Linked DNA regions of Homo sapiens. The protein of the gene in region 4 purifies or fractionates together with the protein of the main gene of each other region. This does not show direct contact. Each region holds a gene or a part of one and is shown on either strand. Other genes may lie near its edges.

What was found.
Region 1: the proteins of IGSF8 (region 4) and GHITM purify together in Homo sapiens (co-immunoprecipitation; 2 studies listed by BioGRID and IntAct, with this or other methods). This does not show direct contact.
Region 2: the proteins of IGSF8 (region 4) and TBRG4 purify together in Homo sapiens (affinity purification with mass spectrometry; 4 studies listed by BioGRID and IntAct, with this or other methods). This does not show direct contact.
Region 3: the proteins of IGSF8 (region 4) and DAGLB purify together in Homo sapiens (affinity purification with mass spectrometry; 4 studies listed by BioGRID and IntAct, with this or other methods). This does not show direct contact.

The regions. Positions count from the first base shown.
Region 1 is NC_000010.11:84,134,566-84,142,854, reverse strand, and holds the start of GHITM (growth hormone-inducible transmembrane protein), read right to left. Parts: upstream 3,347-8,289; 5' UTR 3,262-3,346; intron 1,394-3,261; 5' UTR 1,355-1,393; coding exon 1,226-1,354; intron 201-1,225; coding exon 101-200; intron 1-100. UniProt on the Homo sapiens protein: Plays an important role in maintenance of mitochondrial morphology and in mediating either calcium or potassium/proton antiport. Mediates proton-dependent calcium efflux from mitochondrion.
Region 2 is NC_000007.14:45,108,550-45,115,992, reverse strand, and holds the start of TBRG4 (FAST kinase domain-containing protein 4), read left to right. Parts: upstream 1-4,295; 5' UTR 4,296-4,323; coding exon of another isoform or gene 4,324-4,350; intron 4,351-6,705; 5' UTR 6,706-6,749; coding exon of another isoform or gene 6,750-6,755; coding exon 6,756-7,166; intron 7,167-7,443. UniProt on the Homo sapiens protein: Plays a role in processing of mitochondrial RNA precursors and in stabilization of a subset of mature mitochondrial RNA species, such as MT-CO1, MT-CO2, MT-CYB, MT-CO3, MT-ND3, MT-ND5 and MT-ATP8/6. May play a role in cell cycle progression.
Region 3 is NC_000007.14:6,444,631-6,451,989, reverse strand, and holds the start of DAGLB (diacylglycerol lipase-beta), read left to right. Parts: upstream 1-4,035; 5' UTR 4,036-4,147; coding exon 4,148-4,242; intron 4,243-5,885; coding exon 5,886-6,037; intron 6,038-7,359.
Region 4 is NC_000001.11:160,095,219-160,102,661, reverse strand, and holds the start of IGSF8 (immunoglobulin superfamily member 8 precursor), read left to right. Parts: upstream 1-4,042; 5' UTR 4,043-4,189; coding exon 4,190-4,253; intron 4,254-4,870; exon of another isoform or gene 4,871-7,241; intron 7,242-7,415; coding exon 7,416-7,443. UniProt on the Homo sapiens protein: Member of the immunoglobulin superfamily (IgSF) that links tetraspanin-enriched microdomains to the actin cytoskeleton and plays several important roles in innate and adaptive immunity.

The DNA.
Region 1 (8,289 bases), on a different chromosome or scaffold from region 4:
AGAAAATGCACAAATACACATATATTTTTAGGAAGTTGTTCATGGACCTCTTAAAACATATCCATAGATTCTAGGTTAAAAACTAAAGATAGCCACCTACTTTTAAATATTTTTTCCATCGATGGTTCCAATGCTGCCTCTTTGAGTTCTTGGCCAGTTCTCCCACGCCGGATCCCAATTCTTGTTTTGGTGGCATATTCCTGACACACATGCAAACAAAGACACGTACCACCCACATGAAAACAGAACGTTAATAAAATAAAATGCAAGATCCCTTTACACTAGAAAACTCTAGTTAAAGAAACTTGGTACTTTCTATATACCTAACTTCACTATGGAAATTTATTAGCCAACTTAAAAAACTAAATGTAAAAATAAATAAATAAATGTAGACCTTCCCTGTGCTCCACCTTTGGAAGTTAGTAATTCATTATATTATTCTTAGTTTCAATTTCAGAAAAATTGTTTCTTTCACAAACTATAGATTTACATACCTAGAATTGTTATATTTTAAATCCTAACCAAATACCAGGGTGAGAATCTGTTAGCATTTTTAAGATATGCATTCTACAAGCATTATTAGCTATATTTTGTCATCTGGGATATGGACTCAAGAACAGCATCTTTCCTTAACATGAAGCCAAGAAGAGGGAAGACTACTACTTCCATTGTGGCTCTTTTTCAACAGTGGAACAGTTAATTTAAAAGAGAAAATGTCTCCTAGCTTCTTTATATTGTCCTCATTACCTCACACTTCAAACCTTATAATCTGAATGCCAGAAGATAAATCTATTATAAAAATGGGTTTCTTTCTAACCTGACAGATATTATCAACCTCTAAATAAGAGATAATATATTTAGTAATTTATTAATAAGCTATTGGCCAACTGGTAATATCCCTGGGTTCTTAAACTTCTGACTATGTGCTCCAGGATCTCCGTTACACTATGTAACTCTCAATCCCTCACAATGTACTCTAAATTTTCTAAATGAGAAACTCCAGAAGCTGTAAGCGAAGACAGAGTTACAGAAACTCATTTTCTATTTCATATGGGATAAGGAGGGACCAGAATGATACAAACTAATGGGGAGAAAGAGCTGATTGGGGATATTATCAGGGCTAACTGACGTATAACACACTAAAGGCAGAGCAGCCATACTCTGCCAAAAAGAAAGGGCACAAATGGAAAAAGAAGCAATATAAAAACATTCAGATTATCTTTACCCTGCTAGGTGTTAACAGCCATTGATTCTTCGTGATGGAATTCTTCACAACAGGGGAGGCCTTGGTGAAAGCTGGGTGGAAAACCCTAGAAGGTAGTGTCCGGAGACACACCAGCCTTGCAGCCAACATGGTGGTGGTGCACCAGGTCTACCGAGCAGATCTGAAATGCTAGTTTAAAAAAAAGGCAAAACCAACCAAAAAAACATAAGTAAAACAACCTACTAACCAATTAAGAGAAGGACATATGAGAGTCAGAGTCAAGGAACAAACTATTTTTTAGTAGAACAGGAAATAAAGCGACCTTTTTAATTTTCAGCGATGAATTCTTTGCCCAACCATCCACTGTAATGCAAGAAACCCATCCCAGAGAACACAGCTGAAGATGGAGGAACAAACTAGGTTTAAGTCCCAGTTTGACCAATCAAAATAGATGACTGCAAAAATTATGTGTAACACAGAACGGCTGTTAATAACTGGACGTGATTACAGAGTCTGTGATGGTTTTTACAAATGTAGTTTTGGCTTAAGATTTATACCAGCATCCAGTGGGAAAATTTAAAAGAATCTACATAACTTTTGGGCAAAGGAATAGTGTCATCCAAAGAAGACATGAATAGCTCTTCAAGGTTATACTGCATTACAAAGCTAAAAGGTATTAAAAGAAGCCAACTATATGAATTTCAGCTAATCATACCAAATATTACTTTCCTTCAACATGAGATATAAAAATATTCTAAGTTAACCTATTCTATATGTCCTACTATAATGCGTAAAGGACATTTAGTCTTTCAAAGTAAACAAGTAAACTCAGTTACCAACCAGGTTTCCCTTACATTAGACTCCCTCGATGGTGTCTTCAAAAGAAAAGCATGCTAAAAACTGGATTATCTTAGCTCCAGGGCACATTATACTAGATGGGTGGTCAACCAGAAGTCAGCAGACAGTGTTTCTGTAATGCTAAGGTGAGGTGACTACAATAGGTCAGAATGAAATGACGAGTGTAAACCAACTGGGGCTACCAGCCCATCTCTGCCAATGATTTGTAGTGAATTCTAGGCAAGTGATATACTTCTGGGCCCATTTCCCCATCTGTAACATAAGGATTCCGTGTTCAGACTACAGCGTTGACCCTTAGACTACCTGCTTGAAAGTGCCCCGGATGCATCTTAAAATGTAGGCTCCTGGGTCTTTCTTTGCTCCTAATGATTCTACCCCTAGGAATAAGACCAAGAACGTGTGTTTTAACGAACACTCCAAAAGCTAAGAACTATTGCTTTAAGATACCCGAGCGTCCTCCGAGCTCTGCAACTGAACTATTAAGGGTCTTAAAATTCGGCACCCGGCCTTTGGGAAAACACCCAGCGCTTTTGGAACTTTCGTGCCATTACATCATCTCAACCTATGGCTGTCCTGTATCTTCCTCAGTACTCAGTCCACTGGTTGGGGCCGAAGAGGTCCAGCTCAGAGTGACCTCCATGTGGCGTAACAGCCCAGAGTGGGAATCCCGCTTCTGACAGGTTAGAAGTGACCTTGTGAGGAGTGTGGATCTCTAAGACTCAGATGTCGTTGCTATAAAATGGGGAAAATACTACCGACCCTAATCCAAGGGCTTATGCCTCCGTGAGCATTGATGAGTTTGGGTGCCTGGTCCCCGAGAAAGTTCACCCAGCCCGCTAGATTCAGATGAGAACCCGGCAGCAAACTTCCCTGTCAACCCACAACACCTCTGCCCCTGCCCCAGGTGCCGCTACCAGCGCAGCGGCTGTACGGCCTCGCCGCAAGGATGACTCAGCACCTTGTTGCCCGAGGACAGAAGCACAGCTACACTGAGCCCTTGCCCGCCTGACCAGGGCCTTGTGCCGCCGCCCTCTCCACCAGGTCACCCACAGGACTGCGACCCCAACGCGCAGGCCGGCCCTGACGCAGCCAGCAGCACCGCTGCTTCCAGCCCTTCCCCCCGCACCCAGCGGTCCCGTGAGGGCGGCTGTCAGGACCACCGGGGATCCCGGGCGCCCGCCGGCCAGCCGGAGCAGTACCTCGGTCCCCGGTCACCTTCGCCTCGCAGTTTCCCTTCCGGGCCCCTAGCGTCGGCCTCAAAGAGCACAGTTCCTCCGGCGCACTGCATGACGCAACATCGAAAGGACGTAAATAGTACGAGCAGCCAATCACGGGCAGGCCTCTGTCGGAAAAGCGGCCACACTGGGGGAGGCGGGGTTCCGGGTTGAGGAGGCGGGGTTCCAAATTGGTGGGGCGGGGCCAGTTGAGGATTGTTGCAGGGAACGTCATAGTCAGCGTCCATTTTGCGTGTGGGCATGGGAGTCGTCTCGGCCATCTTTGTTTTGGGCAGTGGAGCTCTGTTTTGCTTTTGTTTTAGTCGTTTCACTCGCCGCAGCTATAAGAATTATGTAAAAATTGAAAGAAAGTAATGTTAGAGTTAAAAATTATTCCGTTTATTCCGTTCCTTTTTGAAGGCCTTTTTGTCCCTTAATTTATCGTGAGATAAATATCTTTTCAAATGTGTCTGCTTCTGAGCCGAGTCATCCGGTTTCTGGGGTCTCATGCCAAATGTTAGATGGTGACATCCAGAAAAGATTTTTTCTAGATGGTTTTTTCATTGCTTTGTGACTTTCCCGCCCACATTTTCAAGTTTCACCCTAAACCTGTGTAATAGGCCTGATAACAGCCGCCTCTGCCTTGCACCCAGGATTGCTCTGAGGACTAAGATGTTTCCATTGCGCGTAATTTGATAGGTGAAGAGCTAGTTGTGGAATACGCGAGAGAGTTACTTTCTTTTTCACTCTCCCTCTATTTCAACAGATATTTACTGAATGCTCAACTTCGTACCAAGCTCTGTTCTAGAAATATATACAAATGAATCAGCCGGGCGTGGTGGCTCAAGCCTGTAATCCCAGTACTTTGGGAGGCCGCGGCGGGTGGATCACTTGAGGTTAGGAGTTCGAGACCAGCCTGGCCAACGTGGGGAAACCCTGTCTCTACTAAAAATACAAAAATTTGCCAGGCGTGATTGGTGCCTGTAATCTAAGCTACTTGGGAAGCTAAGGCAGGAGAATCACTTGAACCCAGGAGGCGGAGGTTCCAGTGAGCCCAGATCCCGCAACTGCACTCCAGCCTGGGCGATAGAGGGAGACTCAGTCTCAAAAAAAAAAGAAACCAAAAAAACAAAAACAAAAAAACAGCAAATGAATTAAACCCGTGTGTGCTACCACTATTTTAACAAAATAAAGTCCTTGCTCTGTGGCTTTACTTTCTGGTAGAGACAGAACATAGAAAAAATATAATGTGATAACTTAATACCATGAAGAAAGAGCAGATTAAAACCCTGAAAGGGTGATAAGGTGATTAACAACATGCAAAATTCATGAACCTTTATCTCCTAAGCAGTAGTTAATTGTGATTTATGATTCCTAATCATGTAAACCTTGACAAATATAAAGACTTGCCTTCTATGTGGATAATAAAAGAGTCTGGCAGCAACACAATTCTTATCTCTTTACGCTGAAAATGGCAGGAAAACACTAGAGAAATCTCACGAAACTGAACAGATCAAGCATGATCAGTTTAATTTTTATTTTGATCTATGCCCAATTTTATTAGCTAGCAAATAGGTTTTCTGTTTGGCTCCTTCAGTGATAGTCTTTTTTTCTAGAGCTTCTGTTATCAGCAAAGAGAAAGGATTTACAACACAGTACCAGAATAAAGATCTTGAAGTCAATGACTCAAGCTTTCTTCAAGATTCCTATTAAAGCTTATTCTCTCCATATTGGAAGAAAAATGTCTGATTTCATATTTTCCTTTCTCAAGTAAAGGGCTTGTATTGTTGTTTCCACAGGGGTCAAATATTTTGAAGCAGGGGAGGAATCTGGTCATATCATTGGGAAATATATGCTCTTGTGGCAGTGTAGGAAGGGAGAGGTTCCATGGACCAGGAGACCAATTAGGAATTTATTGTAGTTGTTCAACCAAAAGGCAATAAAGGCTGGAATTAAGCCAGTAGAAAGACACAGAGGGGTTTATGACAGAGATATATTGCTGAAGTGGAGTTTGCAGGATTGAATGGTCGGTCAAATATAGCTGATAAGAATGAGGAAGGCTCCCTGAGTAATCCTTCTGAACTGGGTGGATAATTTTATCATTAATTTAGCAATAGGATACAGGGAGAGATACAAGTGAGGGGAAGTAGATACATAAAACTTAGTTTGAAGTGTTTAATTGTTAAGTTCTCTGCTTCTAAGTTCTTAGAGTGTAGGATAGAGAAAAGGACAAGCCGGGAATGGTGGCACATGCATGTAGTCCCAGTTACTGGGGAGGTAGCCCAGGAGCTTAAGGCCGGCCTGGGCAACATAGGGTGATGCTGTCTTTAAAAATAAATAAGTAGGCTGTGTGTGGTGGCTCACGCCTGTAATCCCAGCACTTTGGGAGGCCGAGGCGGGTAGATCACAAGGTCAGGAGATTGAGACCATCCTGGCTAACATGGTGAAACCCCGTCTCTACTAAAAATACCAAAAAAAAAAAAAAAAAAAAAAAAAATTAGCAGAGCATGGCGGTGGGCACCTGTAGTCCCAGCTGCTCGGGAGGCTGAGGCAGGAGAATGGCATGAACCCAGGAGGTGGAGCTTGCAGTGAGCCGAGATCGTGCCACTGCATTCCAGCCTGGGCAACAGAGCGAGACTCCACTTCAAAAAAATAAAAAATAAAAAATAAAAGAATAAATAAGTAAATAAAAAGGAAAAGACATGATTCGTAAATTCCAATACTATATATATGTCACGGTTTTTATTACAGTCTGCTGATGAATTCCTTATTCTCCACTTGCTGGCTAAGTGAGATATGCTGCATTATAGTGGAGAAAACTCAGAGCCAGGACAAAAGATAAAATATTTTATTTACTTTCAGTTAAAATAAATGCTCTCACCTTGCCCTACTATGCTTTCCCATCAGAAGATGTGGTATGAATGAAACAGAGTTGGAAAGGGAGTTTGCTGGGGCTTTAACCTCTGCCCTCCCTGATGGAGTCTCCCAACAAAGGGAAGGTGCTTCTTCCTGAAAGGTTGCAGATGTTTCTGAATGTAGGGACCAATTGGCACCTGCTTCTCATGTGGTTGCTAAGTGGCAGACAACAGAGCAGGTAGGAAAGTTACAAGATCTTCCCCATCTTGGCCTTGTTTTCCCTTGGAATCCCTAAGGTCTAGATAAACACAAGAATGTGATTGTGAGCACGCACCTGCTTGTTTGCACCCTTCGAGATGCTGCTCAGTAGTGAGGCGACACTAGAAGTATGTGTGGGTGAGATGCCCAGATGGGCACCAACAGACCATTTAGTGTATGACAAGGCAGAGCCATTTGACTCTGCTTGGGTGAGAGATCAAACTGTGCCAACTTCAAAAGTTATATCCTGCCAGCCACAGAAAGACAATGAAGCCATGGGGACTACTCCCTTTAGATTTTGCTGAACGGCAGCTGCATGACAATGCAATGACTAAGAGGTAGAGTGGAAGGACAGAGAAGCTACACTTTTTCCCCTCCTGTTTAATGTAAATGTTTCTAATCCAGTTGTGGCCCAGGAGAGGAGAAAGGACTTTGAACTCCAATGTGACTGATGGTAATAAATCCTGAAACTGACAGACAAATTGTCAGACTGTTCTGAGCTTGCAAAATGGAATAAATAGGCTGTCTGCTCTAAACTGACTGGGGCCTTGAAAATGACATCGATGGCAGTTTAAAGAAAAATGTAGCTCAATTTTGCATTCACCTAACTGACAATATATACCCCTCACATATGTGCAACTAAATGCTGTAAGTGGGCCAAAGGACAAGGTCATTAGTGGGGTAGTATCTGTGGAGGGACAGATATTGGCAGAAAATTGAGACTAGTGTCATGCTTTCTGGTCAGTCTTCCAAGAGGAAACCAACACTCAGAAATTGTAGTAGCTTTTCTTAAGAAAAAGGTATTAGGTTGTTCTTGCACTGCTATAAAGAAATACCCGAGGCTGGGTATTTTATAAGAAAAGAGGTTTAATTGGCCCATGATTCTGCAGGCTATACAGGAAGCATAGTGGCATCTGATTCTGGGGAGGCTTCAGGAAGCTTCCAATCATGGCAGAAGGCAAAGAGGGGCAGGTACATCACATGGCAAAAGGAAGAGCAAGAGAGAGAGAGTTGGCGGGGAAGGGCCAAACACTTTTAAATGACCAGATCTCCTGAGAACTCACTATCTCAAGGACAGCACCAAGGGGATAGTGCTAATCCATTCAAGAGAAATCCACTCCCATGATCCAGTCACTTCTGTCCAGGCCCCTCCTCCAATAACGGGAATTATAGTTCAACATGAGATTTGGGTGGGGACAAATATACAAACTATATCAAAAACATAGCAAGGTAAATGGTAGATCTGGGTCTAGAACATGCGATGGAGGCAAAAGCTGGTGCTTGAGGGATTAAAAAAAATCTCTCTTTTAATATATAATGCATGGATATGCAGACAGCACATGTGCTAGTAAAGCTATGACATTAAGATGTCATGGGGGAGGGAATCAGGCAAAAGCATCTGAAATGAATTCCTAGGGAAGCAATAATAAAAAAAGGCTGAGGAGCACTGGCCTAGAATACAGGATTTCTGTGATTCACTCTGATATCAGGCTCATCAGAAAAATTTTTGGTGTTACCCTCTATGACTCTATCAGTGAGTTGTTATTTGAGGTGATTTTGTGATCTTGAAGGAAATGAAAATATTTCACCCCCAAATATATTTTCTTGACATTGTTCAAGATGACTATTCAGAAAGGCTGGAAATAAAATAATAGCTAAAAAGCTGTCTTTTGTGGGAGAGATTAGCATTTGTAGAAAAAGTCTGCATTGATAAAGTCCTGCATTCTCCGAAGGTCTTCTCTTGTCTGATCTAGGAAAGACTGAGAGTCCGGCACCATAAAGGTCTGAAAGAAACATTTACCATCTTTCTCTCTGAAGGCTACTACCTATGAAGTTACATCTGCATAACAGGATCGCTGTTGCTAGCCAACCCTCCTCTTCTCTCTCTCCCATAACCTG
Region 2 (7,443 bases), on a different chromosome or scaffold from region 4:
AGGGACAAACATGCTCCCTCGGGCCTCTTTTATAAGGGCACTAATTCCATTCACGAGGGCTCCATCCTCTTGACCTAATTACCTCCCAAAGGCCCCACCTCTTAATATCAACACTTTGCAGATTAGACTTGAACATACACATTTCGGAGGGACACAATCAGATCATAACATCTATGTTTACTAGTTTATTACAAAGCATATTTTAAAGGATACAGATGAACATCTAGATTAAAAGGGTCTTAGGGGCCAGGCACGGTGGCTCACACCTGTAATCCCAGCACTTTGGGAGGCCGAGGCGGGCGGATCACGAGATGAGGAGATCAAGACCATCCTGGCTACCACGGTGAAACCCTGTCTCTACTAAAAATACAAAAAATTAGCCGGGCATGGTGGCGTGTGCCTATAGTCCCAGCTACTCGGGAGGCTGAGGCAGGAGAACGGCATGAACCCAGGAAGCGGAGCTTGCAGTGAGCCGAGATAGCGCCACTGCACTCCAGCCTGGGCGACAGAGCGAATCTCCATCTCAAAAAAAAAAAAAAAAAAAGTCTTAGGGCCAGGTTCCAAAGGAAACTGTTCCTCTAATCACAACACTTCTGGAAGAATCTCAAGCATCAGAGCTTCTGTTCCCATGGGGTTTGGGAGGTGACACCTTCCCAGCATGTGGATGCATTCACCAACTTGGAAGCTCTCTGAACCCCATTGTTTAATAAGTTTTTATGAAGTTTCATTACCTAGGTATAATTGATAAAATCATTGGCCATTAGTAATGACAGTCAAAAGAAATGTTTTTATATGAGGAATATGAGCTTCCTCTAAATTATCAGGCCCAAAAAAAGGCATGAGAAAGAGACAGCAGTCACATCTCACTTCCTCCCTCTTGCTGAATAATCATCTTTTGAAGCTGCTTGCTATGTGGACTCTAGACTGACTGCCCCCCAAGTAGCTATAAATTAACCTAACAATACTGCATGCTGCACAACATAACTCATACCCTATCATTCAACAATGTATAGCCATCACTAATCAATGTTATTTCTGTAAACCAATGAGAATTCCTGACAAACAACTTTTTATCTGCCCCATGCCTAGTCCCCTTTTTTACCTTTAAAAACCTGCTTGTAACAAAGGCTTAATGAAGCTCATATCCCAGGTTACTTGCATGTGAGTCTTCTGGGCAGCTGTCTTCATTTTGGTTCAAATGTAAACTCTCCACTTTTATTAATTTTGCCTCCGTTTCTTCTTTTAGATAAACTGTAATCAAATCAATCTCCAGCCTCTCTCCTCTCTCTGGAGGTTGAGAGGTGGGGCTAAAAGTTTCAGCCCTCTAATCACATGGTTGGTTTCTCTGATAACCAGCTCCCATCTTCCAAAAGCCACTTCATTAGTGGCATAAACTCAGGTATGGTTAAAAGGGGCTTATGATGAATAACAAAAGATGTCACTATCATTCAAGAAGTTACAAGTGTTTTACAAATGCCCATCAATGATAGCCTGGATAAAGAAAATGTGGTACATATACACCATGGACTACTATGCAACCATAAAAAGGAATGAGATCATGTCCTTTGCAGGGACACAGATGGCGCTGAAAGCCATTATCCTTGGCAAACTAACACAGGAACAGAAAACCAAACACTGCATGTTCTCACTTATAGGTGGGAGCTGAACAATGAGAACACATGGACACAGGGAGGGGTACAACACACACTGGGGTCTGTCCATGGGACAGGGGGAAGGGAGAGCACCAGGATAAGTAGCCAATGCATGCAGGGCTTAATACCTAGGTGATGAGTTGATAGGTGCAGCAAACCACCACGGCACACGTTTACCTATATAACAAACCTGCACGTCCTGCACATGTATCCTGGAACTTTAAATTAAATTAAAATACACATACACAAATGAAAAACATCAGGATAGCAATTAGCTGGGGTGGAGGGATAAGAAAGAAGAGGAAACTCTCAGAAAATTGCAACAATATTGGTAATATTCTATTTCTTAAGTGGAGTAATGGGTTCACGGGTTTCTTTTCATAATTCTGCTTTGTAACTTGAGCATATTTAAATTTATATATACACTATATATATTATGTATATGTAGCAAACATTTTATAAATACAAATGATATTATCTTTATAAAATGCCTTAATGAAAACCTAAAGAAAAAAGTTACAAGGGTTTTAGAAGCTCTATGCAGAGACCACATATATATTTCTTAAGTCACAGGTGGCTTTTAGTATACTCAGTGTTGTGCAACCATCCCTATTATCCAATTCCAGGACACTTTTACCATCTCAAAAAGAAACCTCAAACCCATCAGAAGTCACTCCCTATTCTCCCCACCTCAACATCACATAGGTGACTCTATCAATTCACCTACTCTGGACATTGCAAATATAAATGGAACTATACAATATGTGGCCTCATGTGTCTAACTTCTTTCCCTTAGCATGTTTTCAAGGTTCTTTCCTCAACAAAACTCCATTAGTTTGTCTAAAGCTTTTCTTTTAACAGATCTATAAATCTGTTGTAATATTGTCTTTTGACAGACAACTTGTGAAGGATTTGGAGTAGAATTTGTGATAAATACATGGAATCTTAATTAACTGTTAACAGAAAAATCAAACTCTGTAAATTACTTAAAGAGGTTTATTCAGGGCCAATGAGTGACCACAGCCCCAGGAAAATACAAACCCAAAAAGCCTTAAGTGTTCCCGAGGCAGTCAGATTATAGTTTGGTTTTATACATTTCAGGGAGCCAGGGGTTACAGGCAAAGACATAAATCAATGTGTGGAAGGTATACACTGGTTTGGCTCCAAAAGACAGGATGTCTTGATGTGGGGGGTTTACAAGTTATATGTGGACTCAAATACATAGATATATACACGATATATGATTGATTGATAGATAGATAGATAGATCTCTTGGTAGGGGTAGATAGGGTCTCCCTATGTTGCCCAGGCTAGTCTTGAACTCTTGGCCTCAAGTGATCCTCCCACCTCAGCCAGCTTGACCAAGAGATTTTTTAATTTGCAACTGGTTAAAAGAGTGAGGCTCTGTGTAAAATTTGGAGTCAGCAGAAAAGAATGTTTAAGATAGTATGCCAGAATCAGCCACAATACACTGGGTCAAAAAAGACCTCTTCAGCAAGATTGATGGTCTGCAAGCTTGACTTAACCCTTGCCTTGCACGGCCTTAGGTCTTGTTTATAATTTGGTATCTTACTACCACAAAGTCTGTTAGTCTTATGATCTCTACTTTAACAAGGGGTGTTCAACCTCCCTTTCCAGAATGGCTGGGAACTCAGTTTTTAAGGTTTCTCTGGGGTCTCCTTGGCTAAGAGGAGGTCCGTTCAGTGCTTGGGGGGCTTACAATTTTATTTTTAGTTTACAAACACAAACAAACGTAATTATTTATTTTTATGTTTTTTGTTTTGTTTTTTGCGACAGAGTCTTGCTCTGTCAACCAGGCTGAGTGCAGTGGCAAGATCGCTGCTCACTGCAACCTCCACCTCCCGGATTCAAGCGATTCTCATGCCTCAGCCTCCCTAGTAGCTGGGACTACAGGTGCGCCCTACCACGCCCGGCTAATTTTTTTGTATTTTTAGTAGAGACGGGGTTTCGCCATGTTGGCCAAGCTGGTCTCGAACTCCTGAACTCAAGTGATCCGCCCACCGAGGCCTGGGATTACAGGCGTGAGCCACCGTGCGTAGCCAAGTAATTATTAACTCCACAGAAAATAAAAGGCTGTGCAGGAAGTAAAAATTAATCAAGTCCATATATAGACCTCAGATACATTTCGTTTGGGCTATCCTGCACTTTACTTTGTAATTAAACACCACTATTTAAAAATCAGGAAAATTGCACATAAAAATCCAGCTGCAAGTGGGCGCTCTGGAGTTCCCCAGTCTCCACTCACTCGTCCTCCCAGCCCCCACAGGCCTCAACGTCGCCTATCCCACTCCACCAGCCCAGTCTTCCACCGCCCTAGGAACTCTCCTACGCCTACGCAAGCAGGGAGGGATAGGGTGACAGCACCGACAACAAAGGGTCGTCTCCCGCACTCCGTATGAGGATGGCGTACTGGTCGGGGGGCAACCGAAGCCTTTCTTCCTAGGTTCTTTATCTTTTCTAAGTTTCCCATGACCTATCGCTCCGCTTGAGCCCTCAGCAAAGATGTCACCCGCCGAAAGGTGTGGCCGGAAGCTGGAGGCGTGGCTTCCGGACGTGCGGGGCGAGGCTCGTCTCGTTTCCGCCGGCGCTCCGAGTGACGTAGGGAAGCGCGCCGCGCACCTCATGGTTCCGGGGACAGTTAGGGCGGCGGATGGAGGTCAGCGGTGGTGCTCGCTGCGTAGGTCTTGTGGCACGGGGAGAAGGGGCGGCTGATCGTGGGTTTCGAGTGCACAACACAGGCGTGGCTGGGAAGGTCCTGGGATGCGGTGGAACTGGGGAGCAGGCTGGGACGCGGTGGGATGCCGTGGGCCTGGCCGTCTGCTCGTTCCGTGCTGGCTTGCCAGTGCGCACGCTTCCTCTCTAGCCCGCGCGGCCAGGCCTGGAAGACGCCGCCCCTGTTGACCGTCCATGACCCCAGCGAGCCAGTTTTCGTGACTTAGTGCAAGTTGTTTTCTCTCTGCATTTTAGAACTAAAGTTTTGGATTGCTGTTTGCCTAAACTCAAGTCTGGCTCCTGGGCTTCCGTTTACTCGGCTAAACTGCTCTTAGGGCTCTTAAAAAATTGGAAAGGCGGCCGGGCGCGGTGGCTCACTCCGGTAATCCCAGCACTTTGGGAGGCCGAGACGGGTGGATCACTTGAGGTCATGGTGAAACCCTGTCTCTACTAAAAATACAAAAATTAGCCAGGTGTGGTGGCGCGGGCCTGTAGTCCCAGCTATTTGGGAGGCTGAGGCAGGAGAATCGCTTGAATCCGGGAGGCTGAGGTTGCAGTGACTCGAGATCGCAGCATTGCACTCCAGTCTGGGCGACAGAGCGAGACTCCGTCTCAAAAAAATAAGTCGGAAAGATTTCTACACTGTGCTTAGGCTCAGGAAGTGGTAGATGTTGCGTTTGGGCAAATACTCCGACTCTCTGATCTCTCTCTCTTTTTTTTTTTCTTTAAGTGGAGTTAGACTAAGCTTTTTACAGCTGCTTTAATCCCCTCATATAAAAAGAAAATGTGCTGGCCATATACCAAGTTCCAGGAAGTGGAGAAAGATCAAACGTACATTCTGCTTTGGCAGAAATGAGGCCTAGGTGAACGTTTTATCTTGCCCTTGTCGCATGTCTTCCCTGGATCATGTAATCACCGTAGGGAGCTAGACTAGCTGATAGAATTTTTTTTCTTTTTTTTTTTTTTTGTGACAGAGTCTCGCTCTGCCACCCAGGCTGGAGTGCAGTGGCGCGATCTCGGCTCACTTCAAGCTCTGCCTCACCCTCCCTAGTAGCTGGGACTACAGGTGCCCGCCACCACGCCCGGCTAATTTTTTTGTATTTTTAGTAGAGACGGTGTTTCACCGTGTTAGCCAGGATGGTCTCGATCTCCTGACCTCGTGATCTGCCCGCCTCAGCCTCCCAAAGTACTGGGATTACAGGCGTGAGCCACTGCGCCTGGCCGATAGAATTGTTAAAAGCAACATCAAGGCTATATGTAACACATTGCTGGAGATGGCAACATTGAGTTTGGCCTTGGAAGGATGAGATGTATTTTAAAGGGTCTTATAGGGGGAGGAGGAGACCCAGATAACAAGCCCTGTAAGGTGAAGTGGAAGTGCAAGGCCTGTTTAAAATGGGGCCTTGTGTTGCTGGGAGGCAGAAAAAGCTAAGACTGAGAAAATCATTCTGGGCCATGTTATGAAGTGCTTCTTATTATTGGTTCAGAATTTTTGCTGTTAGAAATTTGGTGGGGGGGTTTTAGTAGGCTAGTGATGTAATCTACCTTGGTTTCGAGAGGCTCACACCTATGTCTACAGTGTTAAAATATATCCACAGAGGCTTTGGGAATGTGAATTTTTTTTTTTTTTTTTTTTTGAGATGGAGTCTCTCACCCAGGCTGGAGTCCAGTGGTGCAATCTCAGCTCACTGCAATCTCCGCCTCTCAGGTTCAAGCAATTCTTGTGCCTTAGCCTCCCAAGTAGCTGGGATTACAGGCGTGCACCATGATGCCCAGCTAATTTTTATATTTTTAGTAAAGATGGGGTTTCACCATGTTGGCCAGGCTGGTCTCAAACTCCTGACCTCAAGTGATCCACCCGCCTAGGCCTCCCAAAGTGCTGGGATTACAGGCGTGAGCCACCACGCCTGGCCAAGCCCGTAATTTTTAATCCTGGTTACCCTTGAAATAAAAAAATAAAAAAAAATTAATGCTGTCTAGGTCGTGTCTGCAGAGATGCCATCATTTAGGAGGCCTTGGGCAGGACCTGGGAATCTGAATTATTGAACCACATCCTAGGTGATTTCAAATTACAAGCAGGATGGAAACCCTCCCACCCAGGCTGTAATGTTCCTGAGTTTTGATATTTGATGGCATTCTGTACTGAAACAAAAATCCTGTGAGACTTTTGCTTTAGAAAATACTATCACATACCTATGGATTGTCAAGAAAGACTTAGTCTGATTTTACAGATAGAGTGGCTTTGACTATTTCATTTCTCAAGTTTGTGAGTCAGGAACTGCCCCTGTAGTAGCCCCTTCTCTCTCCTTTTTCTCTTCAGGGTTTGGAATCACTTGCTAGGAGTCTTGTCTCTCTGCCACCCAGGACATCATGGCAGCTCACCTGGTAAAGCGATGCACGTGCCTCCTGAGAGAAGCTGCTCGTCAGGCCCCTGCCATGGCTCCAGTTGGCCGACTGAGACTTGCCTGGGTAGCCCATAAGACTCTGACTTCCTCAGCCACCTCACCCATTTCCCACCTCCCAGGTTCCTTGATGGAGCCGGTGGAGAAGGAACGAGCATCTACTCCCTACATAGAGAAGCAGGTGGACCACCTCATCAAGAAGGCCACAAGGCCAGAGGAGCTCCTGGAGCTACTTGGTGGCAGTCACGACTTGGACAGCAATCAAGCAGCAATGGTACTTATCCGGCTCTCTCACTTGCTGTCTGAGAAGCCAGAAGATAAAGGCTTGCTCATACAGGATGCCCACTTTCATCAACTTCTCTGTCTGCTCAACAGTCAGGTGGGTGCCGGAGTGTGGTCTGAGAGCATAGACAAGAGGAAAACAGCCAGAAATGCTGGGGTCCACAGCAGCCAGTGCTTACCAAGCATAGACAGGGGCCTTGCATCTCTTGTGATATTTTTTATTTTTTTATAAATTTCAAAGTGCTTTATCGTGCTTTCTCTTTGTTTATCCTTACAAGAGGCCTGTTAGGTAAATATTGCTATGCTCGTCTTACAGACAGCCAAGACGCATAGTGATAGAAGCATGGGAAGTGAGCCTGGTTCTTCTCAGTTCT
Region 3 (7,359 bases), on a different chromosome or scaffold from region 4:
AGAAGAATCGCTTGAACCCAGGAGGCGGGGGTTGCAGTGAGCCGAGATCGCGCCCTACACTCCAGCCTGGCGACAGAGCGAGACTCCGTCTCAAAAAAAACAAAAAAAACAAAAACAAAAAAAGAGGCAGGAGAGGCTGGGTGCGGTGGCTCACGCCTGTAATCCCAGTACTTTGGGAAGCTGAGGTGGGCGGATCACTTGAGGTCAGGAGTTCGAGACCAGCCAAGGCCAACATGGCAAAACCCTGTCTCTACTAAAAATACAAAAATTAGCTGTGCATGGTGGCATATGCCTATAATCCCAGCTACTCAGAATGCTGAGGCAGGAGAATCGCTTGAACTCAGAAGGCTGAGGTTGCAGAACTCAGATCGCGCCATGGCATTCCCACCTAGGCCACAGAACAAGACTCCATCTCAAAAAAAAAAAAAAAGGAAATGAGGCAGGAGAATCAGGAATGAGGGTAATCAATGGTTAACAAGGGTTAAGGCATAAGCAAAAGATCAGCAGGTGCAGCCAGTTCTGGGCAAGATAAGGCAGCATAGAGGCCACATCTGCACTTCTGTGATAACAAGACAGAAGTTTCCACTTCAGCCATGAGTGTTAACCACATTCTTTCTGCTTAATGAAGACCCTAATTGAGGGGTCTCTTGAGCTGTGTGGTCTCTTGAACTTCGTGTCAATCAATCTGTGCTTTTTACGCCATTTGTTTGTCTTTTGTTGATTTGTTTTTTGTTGTTGTCGTTGTTGCTTTGTGGGGTTTTTGTTGCAATTTTTATTTATTTATTATTTTTGAGATGGAGTTTTGCTCTTGTTGCCCAGGCTGGAGTGCAGTGGTGTGATTTTGGGTCACTGCAACCTCCATCTCCCGGGTTCAAGCAATTCTCCTGCCTCAGCCTCCCGAGTAGCTGGGATTACAGGCATGTGCCACCACATCCAGCTAATTTTTAGGAGAGACGGGGTTTCGCCATGTTGGCCAGGCTGGTCTTGAACTCCTGACTTCAAGTGATCCTCCTGCCTCAGCCTCCCAAAGTGTTGGGATTACAGGCATGAGCCACCGTGCCTGGCCTAGTTTTTGTATTTTCAGTAGAGACAGGGTTTCGCCATGTTGGCCAGGCTGGTCTTGAACCCCTGACCTCAGGTGATCCACCCGCCTCGGCCTCCCCAAAGTGCTGAGATTATAGGGGTGAGTCACCGTGCCCGGCCTTGTGTTGCAATTCTCGGTTCAACGCGCAAGCCCCTGACCAACTCACAGCCAAGACTTTCCATCCAGTAACAGAAAACCTGCAGGAGGACTCTTCCTGGCAGAGGAAACACAGAATGTAGAACCCCTGGAGCAAAAATGACCCTGATGTCTTTTCAGAGGGGGAAAAGGCGGCAGGCAGTGGGGTGGGTGATAGAGGCAAATAGTAACCAGGGAGACAGATAAATGAGCCCTTACAAACTTTTGATGTGTGACTACCAGGGAAAGGCCTTTGCCAGGGGCTGGAGTGTAATTTTTTTTTTTTTTTTGAGACGGAGTCTTGCTCTGTTGCCAGGCTAGAGTGCAGGGCGCGATCTTGGCTCACTGCAACCTCCGCCTCCCAGGTTCAAGCGATTCCCCTGCCTCAGCCTCCGGAGTAGCTGGAATTACAGGCATGTGCCACCACATCCAGCTAATTTTTAGGAGAGACGGGGTTTCGCCATGTTGGCCAGGCTGGTCTTGAACTCCTGACTTCAGGTGATCCTCCTGCCTCAGCCTCCCAAAGTGTTGGGATTACAGGCATGAGCCACCGTGCCTGGCCTAGTTTTTGTATTTTCAGTAGAGACAGGGTTTCGCCGTGTTGGCCAGGCTGGTCTTGAACCCCTGACCTCAGGTGATCCACCCGCCTCGGCCTCCCCAAAGTGCTGAGATTACAGGCGTGAGTCACCGTGCCCGGCCTTGTGTTGCAATTCTCGGTTCAACACGCAAGCCCCTGACCAACTCACAGCCAAGACTTTCCATCCAGTAACAGAAAACCTGCAGGGGGGCTATTCCTGGCAGAGGAAACACAGAATGTAGAACCCCTGGAGCAAAAATGACCCTGATGTCTTTTCAGAGGGGGAAAAGGCGGCAGGCAGTGGGGTGGGTGATAGAGGCAAATAGTAACCAGGGAGACAGATAAATGAGCCCTTACAAACTTTTGATGTGTGACTACCAGGGAAAGGCCTTTGCCAGGGGCTGGAGTGTAATTTTTTTTTTTTTTTTGAGACGGAGTCTTGCTCTGTTGCCAGGCTAGAGTGCAGGGCGCGATCTTGGCTCACTGCAACCTCTGCCTCCCAGGTTCAAGCGATTCCCCTGCCTCAGCCTCCCAAGTAGCCAGGACTACAGGTGCGTGCCACCACACTTGGCTAACTTTTTTTTTAAATTTTAGTAGAGACGAGGTTTCACCATGTTGGCTAAGATGGTCTCGATCTCCTCCTGACCTCGTGATTCGCCCACCTTAGCCTCCCAAAGTGTTGGGATTACAGGCGTGAGGCACCGCGCCTGGCCTGCAATGTAATTTTATGCACAAAGTGCAGCCTTGCAAAGTCCCAGGCAGGGTGCAGGCTTTATCTGAAGGTTCACAAAGTCACCCTGGCTGCTGAAGAGGGCACAGCAGAATGAGAAAGCACAGTGGGGTGATGAGCCCAGGCAGGAGATGAAGGTGGCTCAGACCAGGGTGGGGCAGTGGGGGTACTGAAAAGCGCTCAGACTCCACCCCGCCAGCTGCAGGGTGGTTTCAGACCCTGAACTCGAGGGGTTCCTAACACGGGCTCCTTACAGCAAGGGGCACAGATGGAAGCAATGTTGTCCCATGCTTGCAAGTCTCACAGAACGGGATATGAGTCCCACACCTGCCATTGACAGCCTGGGTCTCTAGGCTAGCTAATTCCTCCAGGCCTGAAGCGTCCCTCCTTATAAAATGAAAATTTCGGTCAGGTGTAGTGGCTCACGCCTGTAATACCAGCACTTTGGGAGGCTGCGGCGGGAGGATGGTTTGAGGCCAGGAGTTCAAGACCGGCCTGGGCAACAGAGTGAGACTCCGGTCTCTACAAAAAATAGGAAAATTTATGGAGAAACCCCATCTCTACTAAAAATACAAAATTAGCTGGGCATGGTGACACATGCCTGTAATCCCAGCTACTCAGGAGGCTGAGGCAGGAGAATCGCTTGAACCCAGGAGATGGAGGTTGTGGTGAACCAAGATCGCGCCATTGCACTCCAGCCTGGGGCAACAAGAGCAAAACTATGTCTCTAAATAAATAAATAAATAAATAAATAAATAAATAAAAATAAATTAGCCGGGAGTGTGGCACGTGCCTTTGGTCTCAGCTACTCAGGAGGTTGAGGTGGGAGAGTCGCTGGAATCCAGGAATTCAAGGCGGCATTCAGGAGTTCAAGGCTGCAGTGAGTCATGATTGCGCCACTGCACTCCACCCTGAACGACAGAGCCATACGCTGCCTTAAACAAACAGACAAACAGGGCCGGGCGCAGTGGTTCACGCCTGTAATCCTAGCACTTTGAGAGGCCCAGGCGGGCGGATCACTTGAGGTCAGGGGTTCGAGACCAGCCTGGCCAACATGGTGAAACTTCGTCTCTACTAAAAATACAAAAATTAGCCGTGGTGGCGCGCTCCTGTAATCACAGCTACACCGGAGCCTGAGACAGGTGAATCGCTTGAGCCCGGGAGGCGGAGGATGCAGTGAGCCGAGATCACACCCACTGCACTCCAGCCTGGGAACAGAGCGAGACTCCGTCACCAAAAAAAAAAAAAAAAAAAAAAAAAAAAAAAAAAAAAAAAGGAAAAGGAAATATCACCAGAACGGATATCACTGCACTCTTCACGAAAAAGAAAAAGAAAATACCAGAACGGATTTCACCGACCGGCAGACCTGCAATCGACTCAGCCAGCGCCTTCCGGATCAGCGTTTCTGCGCAGGCGCAGACAGCTCCGGCGGAAGAGGCGGTGTAGGGCTCAGTGCGCTTGCGCCGATCTCGGCCTCAGCGTGAGCATGCGCAGGTCCCCGCCCTCGCTGCGTTTGCGCTTGAGCGCCGATAATTTGGTGGCGGCGTCCGGAGGGTGCTGGTTTGTTCTCGGTGAACGGCGCGCGGGGTCTCTCCTGAGTGCGAGCTACGGGACCTTCGCCATGCCGGGGATGGTACTCTTCGGCCGGCGCTGGGCCATCGCCAGCGACGACTTGGTCTTCCCAGGGTTCTTCGAGCTGGTCGTGCGAGTGCTGTGGTAAGGACGGCGGCTACGGGGGCGGTGGAGCCCACCGGAGAGGGAGCGGGGGGCGAGCTGTCCCTTGAGACGGTGACAGAAGTGGCTTCCCAAGCACTGTCGCGGTCCCAGCGCTGGCCACGCATCCTCTTATCGAGTTCTCACCACTGCCCGAAGAGGTGGGCAGTGGTGCTGTGTCCATTTGACGGATGACAAACCGAAGCCCCCAGAGTGTGTGGGCTGACCCCGGGGGACAAACAGGGGGTTTCGAAGTCCGCGCAGCAGGACGCGAGCACCCCTTTGTGTGCAGCGCCGAGACCTGGCCCTGGGGTGCCACGAGGGTGTTACCGCCGGCAAAAGCCTTGGCCTCGAGTTCTCCTTTCTTGAGGCGGGAGCAGCCACTTGTGCCCTTCCTTCCCTTTGTACGGGGCACTTGAATCTGCAACACGAAGGATAGGAAAAAATACCGAGCCGGTTGTGGCTGCATTTCGTGAGAAGCAGACAGGCTCAACATACAACGCTGTTGTCTTTCAAAGTGTGGAATCAGTGGGAAGTGGCATTGGTACCTGAAGTCTGTTCCCAGAGGATCTGTGCAGGGAATGAATCATTGTTATGCAAAAGTAGATTCTTGGCTGGGCGCCATGGCTCACGCCTGTTATCTCAGCACATTGAGAGGCTGAGACGGGAGGATTGCTTGAGGGCAGGAGTTTGAGACCAACCTGGGCAACATAGTGAGACCCCTTTTCTTTTTATTTTTTTGAGACAGGGTCTCACTCTGCTACCCAGGCGGGAGTGCAGTGGTGCGATCACCACTCACTGCAGCCTCAACCTCCTGGGCTCAAGCGATCTTCCCACTTCACTCTTCCAAGTAGCTGGGACCACAGACTCGTGCCACCACGCCCAGCTAACTTTTTCTATTTTTTGTAGAGATGGAGTCTCACCGTGTTGCCCAGGCTAGTGTCCAACTCTTGTGCTCAAGTGATCCTCCTGCCTTGGCCTCCCAAAGTGCTAGGATTACAGACGTGAGCCGCCGTGCCGGGCCTAGATCTTTTATTGTTGGCAATTATATTCCAGGCCAGGTGCAGTGATTCATGCCTGTAATCCCAGCACTTTGGGAGGCCAAGGCAGGAAGATCACTTGAAGCCAGGAGTTCAAGACCAGTCTGGGCAACATAGCAAGACCCTGTCTCTACAAAAAGAAAATTATATTCCAAAGTGAACCTTGCCTTGTTTTGGAAAATATTAACTCCTTTTATTTCTTTTTTTTTTTTTTTTTTTTTTTTTTTTTTTTTGAGACGGAGTCTCATATCGTTGCCCAGGCTGGAGTGCAGTGACACGATCTCGGCTCACTGCCACCTCCACGTCCCAGGTTCAAGCAATTCTCCTGTCTCAGCCTCTCGAGTAGCTGGGACTACAGGTGCGCACCACTACGCCCAGCTATTTTTTTTTTTTTTTTTGTATTTTTCGTAGAGACAGGGTTTCACCATGTTGATCAGGATGGTCTCGATCTCCTGACCTTGTGATCCGCCCACCTCACCCTCCCAAAGTGCTGTGATTACAGGTGTGAGCCACCGCGCCCTGTCCCCTTTTATTTCTTTGTATCATGTTCTACACAGCAGCTCCTTGGATTTCATTTCTGACCCTTCCCTTTTTTTTTTTTGCCAGGTGGATTGGCATTCTGACGTTGTATCTCATGCACAGAGGAAAGCTGGACTGTGCTGGTGGAGCCTTGCTCAGCAGTTACTTGATCGTCCTCATGATTCTCCTGGCAGTTGTCATATGTACTGTGTCAGCCATCATGTGTGTCAGCATGAGAGGTAAAAAGTAGCCTTTTCTATTTGATACCTATTTTTTTATAGCTTTATTGAGATATAATTCACATACCATACAATTCACTTCTGTAAACTTTCCAATTCAACAGTTTTTAATATAATCACAGAGTTGTGCAGCCATCACCATCATCAAGTTTATACCATTTTCTTCACTCCTGAAAGAAATCCTGTACCAGGCGGGACACAGTGGCTCACACCTGTAATCCCAGCACTTTGGGAAGCCGAGGTGGGTGGATCACTTGAGGCCAGGAGCATGAGACTAGCCTGGCCAACACAGTGGAACCCCATCTCTACGTCTCTACTAAAAATAGAGAAAATTATGTTGGTGCATGCTTGTAATCCCAGCTGCTAGGGAGCTGAGATCATGCCACCGTACTCCAGCCTGAGTGACAGAGTGGAGACTCTGTCACAAAACGGAAAGAAAGAGATCCCATACCCATTAGCAGTCACTCCTCATTTTCCCCAAACTCTCCCAACCCTAAGCATTCACTAATTTGCTTTCTGTCTGTGTACATTTGCCTATTGTGGACATCATATAAGTGGAATTTATTCACTGTGTGGCCTTTTGGTCTGGTTTCTTAAGCTTAGCATAATGTCTTCAAGATTCATCGATGTTTTAGCATGTATCAGTACTTCATTTTGATGGCTGAATAAGAGCATCGAATGAATGGACCACATTTTATTTATCCCTTTGCCATTTGGTAGGCATTTGGATTGTTTCCATTTTTCACCTATTACGAATAGTGCAGCTATGAACATTCGCATACAAGTGTTTATACAGACATGTTTTCATTTCTCTTGAGTGTGTACCTAGGAGTGAATTGCTGGATCATGTGTTAATGCTCTGTGAAACCTTTTGAGGAACTGCCAGACTTTTCCAAGCAGCTGTACCATTTTACATTCCCACCAGCAGTGTATAAGGGTTCTAATTGCCCAACGCTCTTATTATATGACTTGTTAATTATAGCCATCCTAGTGAATGTGAAGTGGTAGCTCATGATTTTGTTTTGTTGTGTTTTGTTTTGTTTTTTTGAGACGGAGTCACACTCTGTCACCCAGGCTGGAGTGCCATGGCGCAATCTCGGCTCACTGTAACCTCTGCCTCCCGGGTTCAAGTGATTCTCCTGCCTCAGCCTCCCGAATAGCTGGGGCCACAGGCCATTTGTTTTTTGTCTCATGGCTTTGAGGAACATTTCTTTGGTGACTAATGATGTTGAGCATCCTTTCATTTGCTTATTGCTCATTTGTGTATCATTTTTGCGGAAATGTCTGTTCAGATCTTTTGCCCAATTTTAGACTAGGCTATT
Region 4 (7,443 bases):
TCAGGGAGAAAAGAGGGGAGGGAGAGGGTGGAAAGCGAATGTGTGTGTGTGTGTCGGGGGGGAGATGGCTTTGTGGTTCTGTGAGTGTGTTTGGTGTTTGGGTGTGCATAATGTCTCTGTGTTTATCTTTGTGTGTGCACTTCTGTTTCAGTGTGTCTCTGAATGAGTTTGTTATCAGGGCGAGGGTAGGTTTCTGCACTACTTCTGTCTCTGACTCTGCTTGAGCCTCTCAGCAACTCAGCAGAGAGAATCTTCCCTTCTGGGAGGGTGGGAAAATATAGCTCATCAGGGCAGTATGGGCCAATGCTTTATAAACACACACAAATCACAGGACATTCTTGTGTGTGATCCTTAGCTCCCCACAAAGCTACGGTTGATACACATTTAAAAGAGAGAGAGCTGAGTCCTATGTGTATGCTTGTGCCATTTCTATATGTCTGACAGTCTGACGAGCATGTGTGCTTATGTATTTGATGTATTTGTCACTTTGTCCCCACGGCAGTATCTGTGTCTACAGCTTGGTGTATACTCATGTGTGCTAAGCCCATATTTAACTGTGTCCCTAGTGACGTTTGTCTTTAAGCAGCAACATAACAGGAGTTAGAAGCACAGGCTCCACAGTGAGGCGATCCATTTCGAATCCCTGTGTGGACAGTAACTAATGCATTAACCTTGGACAAGTTTCTTAACTTTTCTATGCCTCAGTTTTCTCACAGGGATAATAATAGCACATGAGGATAAATGAGATCACATTTAGTGCCTGACACAGGTCAGCATATGTGAATGGTCCTGTCTTTGAACGTGCTCCTCTCTGAGAGCTGTCTGCTTGGTTGTGACTGTGGTGTGTCACATCTCAGCTGGATTATAAACTGCTTTTGGGCAGAGCGTGGGTCTCAATTATCTTTAACAATACTCATGACACCTCAGTGTCACCTTGGTGTCTTGTGTATATGTCATCTTGAGGTGAAATGAGACCTGTTTCATGTGAAACAGGACGGGTGTCGGATGCAGGCCCATGCCTGGGGTAGTACATGGAGGGCAGGTGGGAAGCTGGTGATGGCAGTGACAACACAGCCCAGCCGGGCATCAGGGTCCCTCATGGTCACTACTGCATACCTGCCAGGTCTCTCTGCAAACCCAGGCTCCCTCCTCCTTCGTGTCTCAGTCTGGCCTGGAAACTCACTGAAGGGCTTCCTTCCTCCTTTCTCTGCTCACCCCACCCTCGGGCACCAGCCTAGGTGTGTGTTTTTAATGGATGAGATGAGTGCCCTCCAATCTACACCATGCATCGCTGTTTTGCAGCTTGTGTGTGTTTGCCCATGGCTCTGTGGGGGTGTGTTTCTGGGAGCCGTCTTTCTGTCTGATCCCCGCTCCATTACAGTGGGGACATGTGTCTGTGTGTGTGACGTGCCTCGTGCCTGGGGTTTGTTCTCCTCCCCCAGCTTTCCCAGTTACATAAGCAGCTGAGGGGTCCGTCAGGCCTGGGCTGTGGGCTCCCTCTGCTGGCCGCCTCTGGAACCCGCAGTCTGGGTTCCAGAGGGGCCTGGGTTCCAGAGGGGCCTGCTGAAGACACTGTTCTCTCCTTGGGCCTTATCCCCTCTGGAGGGAGACACCAACCCAGTTCTCAACGCCAACCTGCCCCCAGCTCCTTCCCAGCCCCAGGCCACAGGGTAAGAGAGGATACCTCACCTCCCTGAAGACCCCTCTCATCATACTCATACTGGGGGTTGGTTATGACTTGTTTATGAAATGTATCCCTAACATATAGAACTATGTTCCCTGAGGGCAGGGGAGCAGGCCCACCTTGTTTACCATGGCATCTCCAGTGCCCAGTACAAGGCCTGGCCCAATCAATATTTGTTGAATGACTGAGTTTACAGGGTGGAGAGGCTTGGGAGGAGGGACAGTGAGGTGTAGGAAGATTTGGGGCTTTGGGGACAGACAGACAAGCCTGGGCTGAAGTCACCCCTAAGCCACTTAAAAACTGTGTGGCCTTGGGCAAGGTACTTAACCTGCCTAACCTCAAGTTTCTCTTCTGTTAAATGACACCACCTTGCAAAATATGCTATAAGGACTAGGACTAATATCCAAAAGGGCCTTCTTGTGTAAGCATTTCATAAATGACATCTATCATTATTACAATTGGTAACATCTTTCATCCCTCAAGCATCATGAAGGCATTAAATCCACTCGATAATTAAATCCATTATAAAGGGAGAGACGTATTCTTCCAAAAGCTTCCCCTATGAGTTTCAGTTTTCACATAGCTCGATATGCCTGTGGATGGATTTAGATGATGAGGTTCTGGAGCAACCTTCTGGATATTTCAAAGTGGGAATAAACAGGCACCTTATTGCCCTGTTCATGGGCCAGTGCTGGCAGTCCTGGGAAGTGAGGGCTGGACCTCTGATCTCCCTTCAAGGCCTCAGTTTCTCTGGTTTCTCCAGGGTTCCTCAATGTGGCTTCTACTGGCAACCCCGTGAGCATCTTCTCAGAGTCAGGCACTGTGCCACGCTTGAGGAATACCATGTCAAGGAAGGTCTGGTCTGGCCTGTGCCACTTACCCTCTCTGGGCCTCAGTTTCCTCTTCTGTAAAGGGGGGTGAGTGAGTGGGAGGGAAGGGGGATGAGAGGGGAGAGGGAGGATGTTGGAGGGTAGAGGGTGGTAAATGGGCTCTGGGGTCACCTCCCACTGACAGCCACTCTGACAGCCTTGGCTTTGCAAACCTGGCCATCTCTTCTCCCCATTCTGGTCTCATCCTTCCTGCCCCTGCCCACTTCCCATCTTTACAGTTCAGGAAGAGACAGAGCACCTGGGAAGGGTGCCTCCTCCATTCTCCCACCTCCAGGGCAAGCCCCACTCTTCCTAGAACAGAGCAATGTTCATCTCTTCCCACTGTCACTGAACATAGAGACTCCTTCACCTAAATGCCAGGTCTAAACTAAGCCTCTTAGGAAGCAGTTCAAATAATAATTCAAAACCTAAAACAAAATAATCCTTATCTCCCATTTTGTGTTAGTTTCCTGTGCCAAACACTTTATGTACATTACCTATCATCACAATAACCCTTTGGGTGATGTGATCAACCTCAATTCAATTTGCAGAGGAGAAAACTGAAGTTGAAGGAGGTTAAACAACTGGGCTAGGATCACCCAACCCAGAAATGACGTCACATGGACGGCCCCCTCTCCTAATCCATTTTTCTTTTGGTTTTGCCCTCTGAGGGGGTGAAAAACAGGTCTCCAGTGACCTTCTGGATCCTGGAAGCGCCCTTCAGCTCAAACCCTTCGCATTCAGGAACTCCTGGCTTCCGCCAACCCCTACTTCAGCAGGGTTTGCAGCGAGGACTATGGCTCAGAGCAAATAACTGAATTCTAAATGCGTGGTCACAGTCACCTCGCCAATCCCAGGGACCCTGCACCCAACTCTCCAGGAAAGGCTGGCAGGTGCGGGGTGGAATGCGCTCTGTGCGAGGGTGGGTGGGAATTTCGATGCGCAGAGGTGCAGTTAGCTCACTCCTGCGGGGGCCTCGGGCGGAGCCAGGGCCAGGGGCGGGGCGAGGCCGGGGTCCAGGGCGGAGCCAGGATTGGAGGCTGACGTTAGCCCTGCGGGGACGGGGAAGGGGTGCGGCTTGGGACTGGGGCGGGGCCGGGGCCCGGGGAGGAGCCAGGATTGGAGTCCGACTGTAGTCCTGGTGGGGCGGGGCGGGGGAGGGGCCGGAACTGGGGCTGGGCCGAGGCCCGGGGCGGATCCAGGGCTGGAGTCTTGGCGGGGCGGGGCGGGGAGGGGCGGGGCCGGGGCGGGGCTGGGACTCGATGCGACTCAAAGGTGAGTTTCGAGGGGCGGGGCGGGGCCGGGGCCAGGTGCGGAGCAAAGGCCGGAGTCTGGCGGGGGTGGGGCAGGCAGGGCCAAGGCTGGGTCCGGGGCGGGGCGGGCCTAGACGGGGCGGTGGAAGGGGCGGTGCCGGGGCGGGCCGGGGCGAGAATGGTTTCAGAACTGCCGAGGGCTGGAGGGAAAGCAGCGGGAGGGGCGGAGGGAGGGGATTCGGCAGCTCCAGTTCAGCTCGCTCGGCGCACCCACGCCTCGCTGCCCCGCTTCCTGCCCTCAACCTGGGCATGCGCCCCCCACCCTTCCGGCCCCCCAGAACCCGCGCCATCCCCCGGAGCCTCCCCAGAGCTGGCCGCGCAGGATGGGCGCCCTCAGGCCCACGCTGCTGCCGCCTTCGCTGCCGCTGCTGCTGCTGCTAATGCTAGGTAAGCCAGGCCCCCGTTCCGGTTCCCGGCCCTGCCGGGCAGGTGCCTGCCATCCAGCACCCCCCTAGCATTTCGGGGCTCCTCACATCCTCCTCCGTCAGGGGTACCTCCAGCCTCCCCGGGGTCGGCGTCCAGCTGCGCTTTGTGGCTGTCCGCCGAGCCAGTCTTGGGAAGAGTGCAGGCTCCCCAGCTCTAAGCCAGGGACTGGGGCGTAGAGAGGACCCACTAAGGTGCTGCCCCAGGCACTGCTCGGCCTCCCGGGGCAGGCCACACATCTCAGCTAGCATACCCACGTACTGGGGTCGCTGCACCAAATGCTGCGACTCCTTTCTGCCCCACACTCAGCTCCAGGCCTGGCCTTGGGTGCCCGCCCTACGAGGGCAGTGCCTGCCCAGCTTCATAATTGCCCCAGAGTTGGCTGGAGGCCCAGAGGCCAGTTCTGCCCACGATCTTTGAAGTAAGTCTCTCCCAGTTGCGCTCCACGCACTTCATCAACTGGGGGCAGTTCCCTCTCTCACCCCCATCTCCACCCTGGGTTGGGTCCCTCTTTGCCCTTCTTCCTGTCTCCCAAATGGCACTTGGCTCTGCAGCCACCCATCAGTTTTCACACCGCTTAGTTCCAGCTTCCTTGCCTCAGGAGAAACCAGGTTCCATGGAGACTGATCCTGGGATCTCCAAGCACCTTGTGCCTGCTGTGGTGGGTGTTCATGGTGGGGTGTTCTGGGCCAATCTTGCATGGATGCATGGGGATAATGACAGTGGAATTGTTTTTGGCCTGAACTGGAGGGCTCCCTGTAGGAGGTGGTCTGGGGAAGAGTATGGCATGGAGACAGTGAAACTGCCAGTACAGATGTTGATGAGGCTGAAGCCCTTGAAATGAGAGTGAAGCGTGGGGGTGGGGATGGTGACTTCAGAGCTGCTGTCGTCAAGGCAGAGGCTGAAGGTAGCCCCAGCTGCCTGTTTCTAGACCAGAGCTCCACAGTGGCACCAAGCAAAGCCTTCCCCTGCTGCAGGTCCCTGGGCCCTGCAGGGTTAGGATGAGTCCTCTCCCTGGTCCCTGGGCAGGTGGCAGGAGGATGTACAGAGAGGAAGGCGCTGTGGGGCCTGGGTTGCCTAGCACTTGGTGTGTTTTCCCCAGTGGGCAGCATGGAGCAGGGAGGAGCCCAGGGAGGTGGGGAAGTGCTGGCCTGTGTTTGAAAAAGGAGCACGCAGAGGTCTGAGCACCCACTGCCTGTGGGCACTTACATTCATTTCACAAATGAGGAAAATGAAGTAACTTGCCCCAGAGAGCACATTTAGTGAGTGTTGGGGCTAGGATTTGAACACAGATCTGATTCCAAAGCAGGCCTCTTTGCTGTCCCTTTCCTTGCTGCGACTGATACAGAGGAGGGGAGAGAGAGCTGTGTGGCAACTGATTTCCTAAGGCTGTGGAGGTGACTTTCCCATGGGCATCTCCAAGCATCAGCAGTTGTGGAGCCAGGAAAATGGGAGGGGGCCTTCTGAGCAGTCTGCCCTGAGGCAGTCAGGGAAGGTGTCAGCTTGGCTGTCTCCACCGTCACTCTGATTATGAAACTTGCCTGGCCTGGGGCAGGGCTCTCCTGAGTCACATACGCACTCACACATGGTCAGAGCTGGAGCTCTTAGTTCTCCTCCAGTGTGGAAACTGAGGCCTAGGACAGAAAGAGACTGGATCCCAGGCCACACAGCTGGGCATGGGGATGGTGCTGGAATCCCACTTCCTGACTGGCAGCTGTGCCCTTAACAACAGACCATGAGTTCTCCCTGTGACCCAGCCAGAGGATGAAGGAAGGGGCTAGGAGCCCAGAAGCAGGGGTGGGGAAGTTCAGAGGAGCCGTTCTAGAGAAGCTGGAGGGTAGAGTTTGACCACAGACTCCTGGGCATTTTCCTCTAGCTCCTGCAGAAAGTCCATGGTATCCCCCTGGGAGGCCTAAAAGTGACACTCTGGTTGGTGAGGTCAGTCCCTTCAGGCCTGGCCTTGGAGTTTCCCCATCTTCCTCTCTGGTTTTGCCCCTCTGGAGGAGTGTGTGGAAGCCATCTAGGGACAGCATGATCTTGGCTAACATATTATACTTTTCCTGCCTTACCTTTCTCATCTGTAAAATTGGGAGAGGTGGGGAGGGGTGGCCTAGCCCTCTTTACATTGAGGTTCTGTGATCTTATCTAGTGGGAGCTATGGAAGGAAAGAAGGGAGGAGCTAAGCCCTCTAAGTCTGCCAGGAGTATCTGCTGGGGTAGGGTTGGGCATAGGGGTGGAGTAGGGTGAAGAAGAGAGGTTTGGCCTTTCTGAAGGGAGAGAGATGAGAAGGGGCAGCTGGGGATTTAGTGCCTCCCTACAGAAAGAGAGCCATATATGTAAATGAATGCATACCATGTGCAAATGAAGGCTTTTGTTAAGGAACTGGGGCAGGCACCTTCTGTATCTGCTGGGCTAGCCCGGAAGGTTGGCAGGCACTGGAGGAGGGGATCTTCTGCCCCCAATGGCCAGGGCAGAGCCTGGATCTTGCCCCAGAAGCCCCAGCTGCCTGGGCAGCCCTGTGGGGTGAGAGAAGCAGTGAGCTCATGGCGCAGCTGGAGAGGGGAGGGCATTGTGTGGTGAGAACTGACTGGGCCTGTGCCCTTTCCAGCTAGGGTCACTGGCTCCATTGTCTCGCCCAGGTGACACAGCTGAGCCAACTAGCACTTCTGAGCAAGACTGCCAGCTCCCCTCAAGCAAAGGAGAGGGACATGTAGTCTCAGAGTCCCCTAGCCAGAAGGCTCCCCTTGCCAGGTGCTGAGGAAGGAATGGCAGACATGGAGGTGGGTGAGTGGCAGGGACAGATCAAGGTTCAGTTGGAACCAAGGCCTGGTTAGGTCAGGAATCAGATGTACTCCTTTCTGCCTTCAGGTGCTCTGCTTCTAGTCCGCCAGAAATGGGATGCATCTGGATGCCAAGGCAATCCTGGGCCCATGCCACCTCCTTGAGATCCAGGTGTCTTATATCACAGCATCCCTTTCCTATTCTCAGAACAGGGTCCAAGCTGTGGACAAGCTTTCCCAGGTCTCCTTTCCTTTTGTAGGCAGAGATCAAGAATGGTGCTTGTGGCGGCAGAGGGCATGGAATGAGGAACCAGGCATCTCCAACTCCTTCTGCCTTTCCCTACAGGAATGGGATGCTGGGCCCGGGAGGTGCT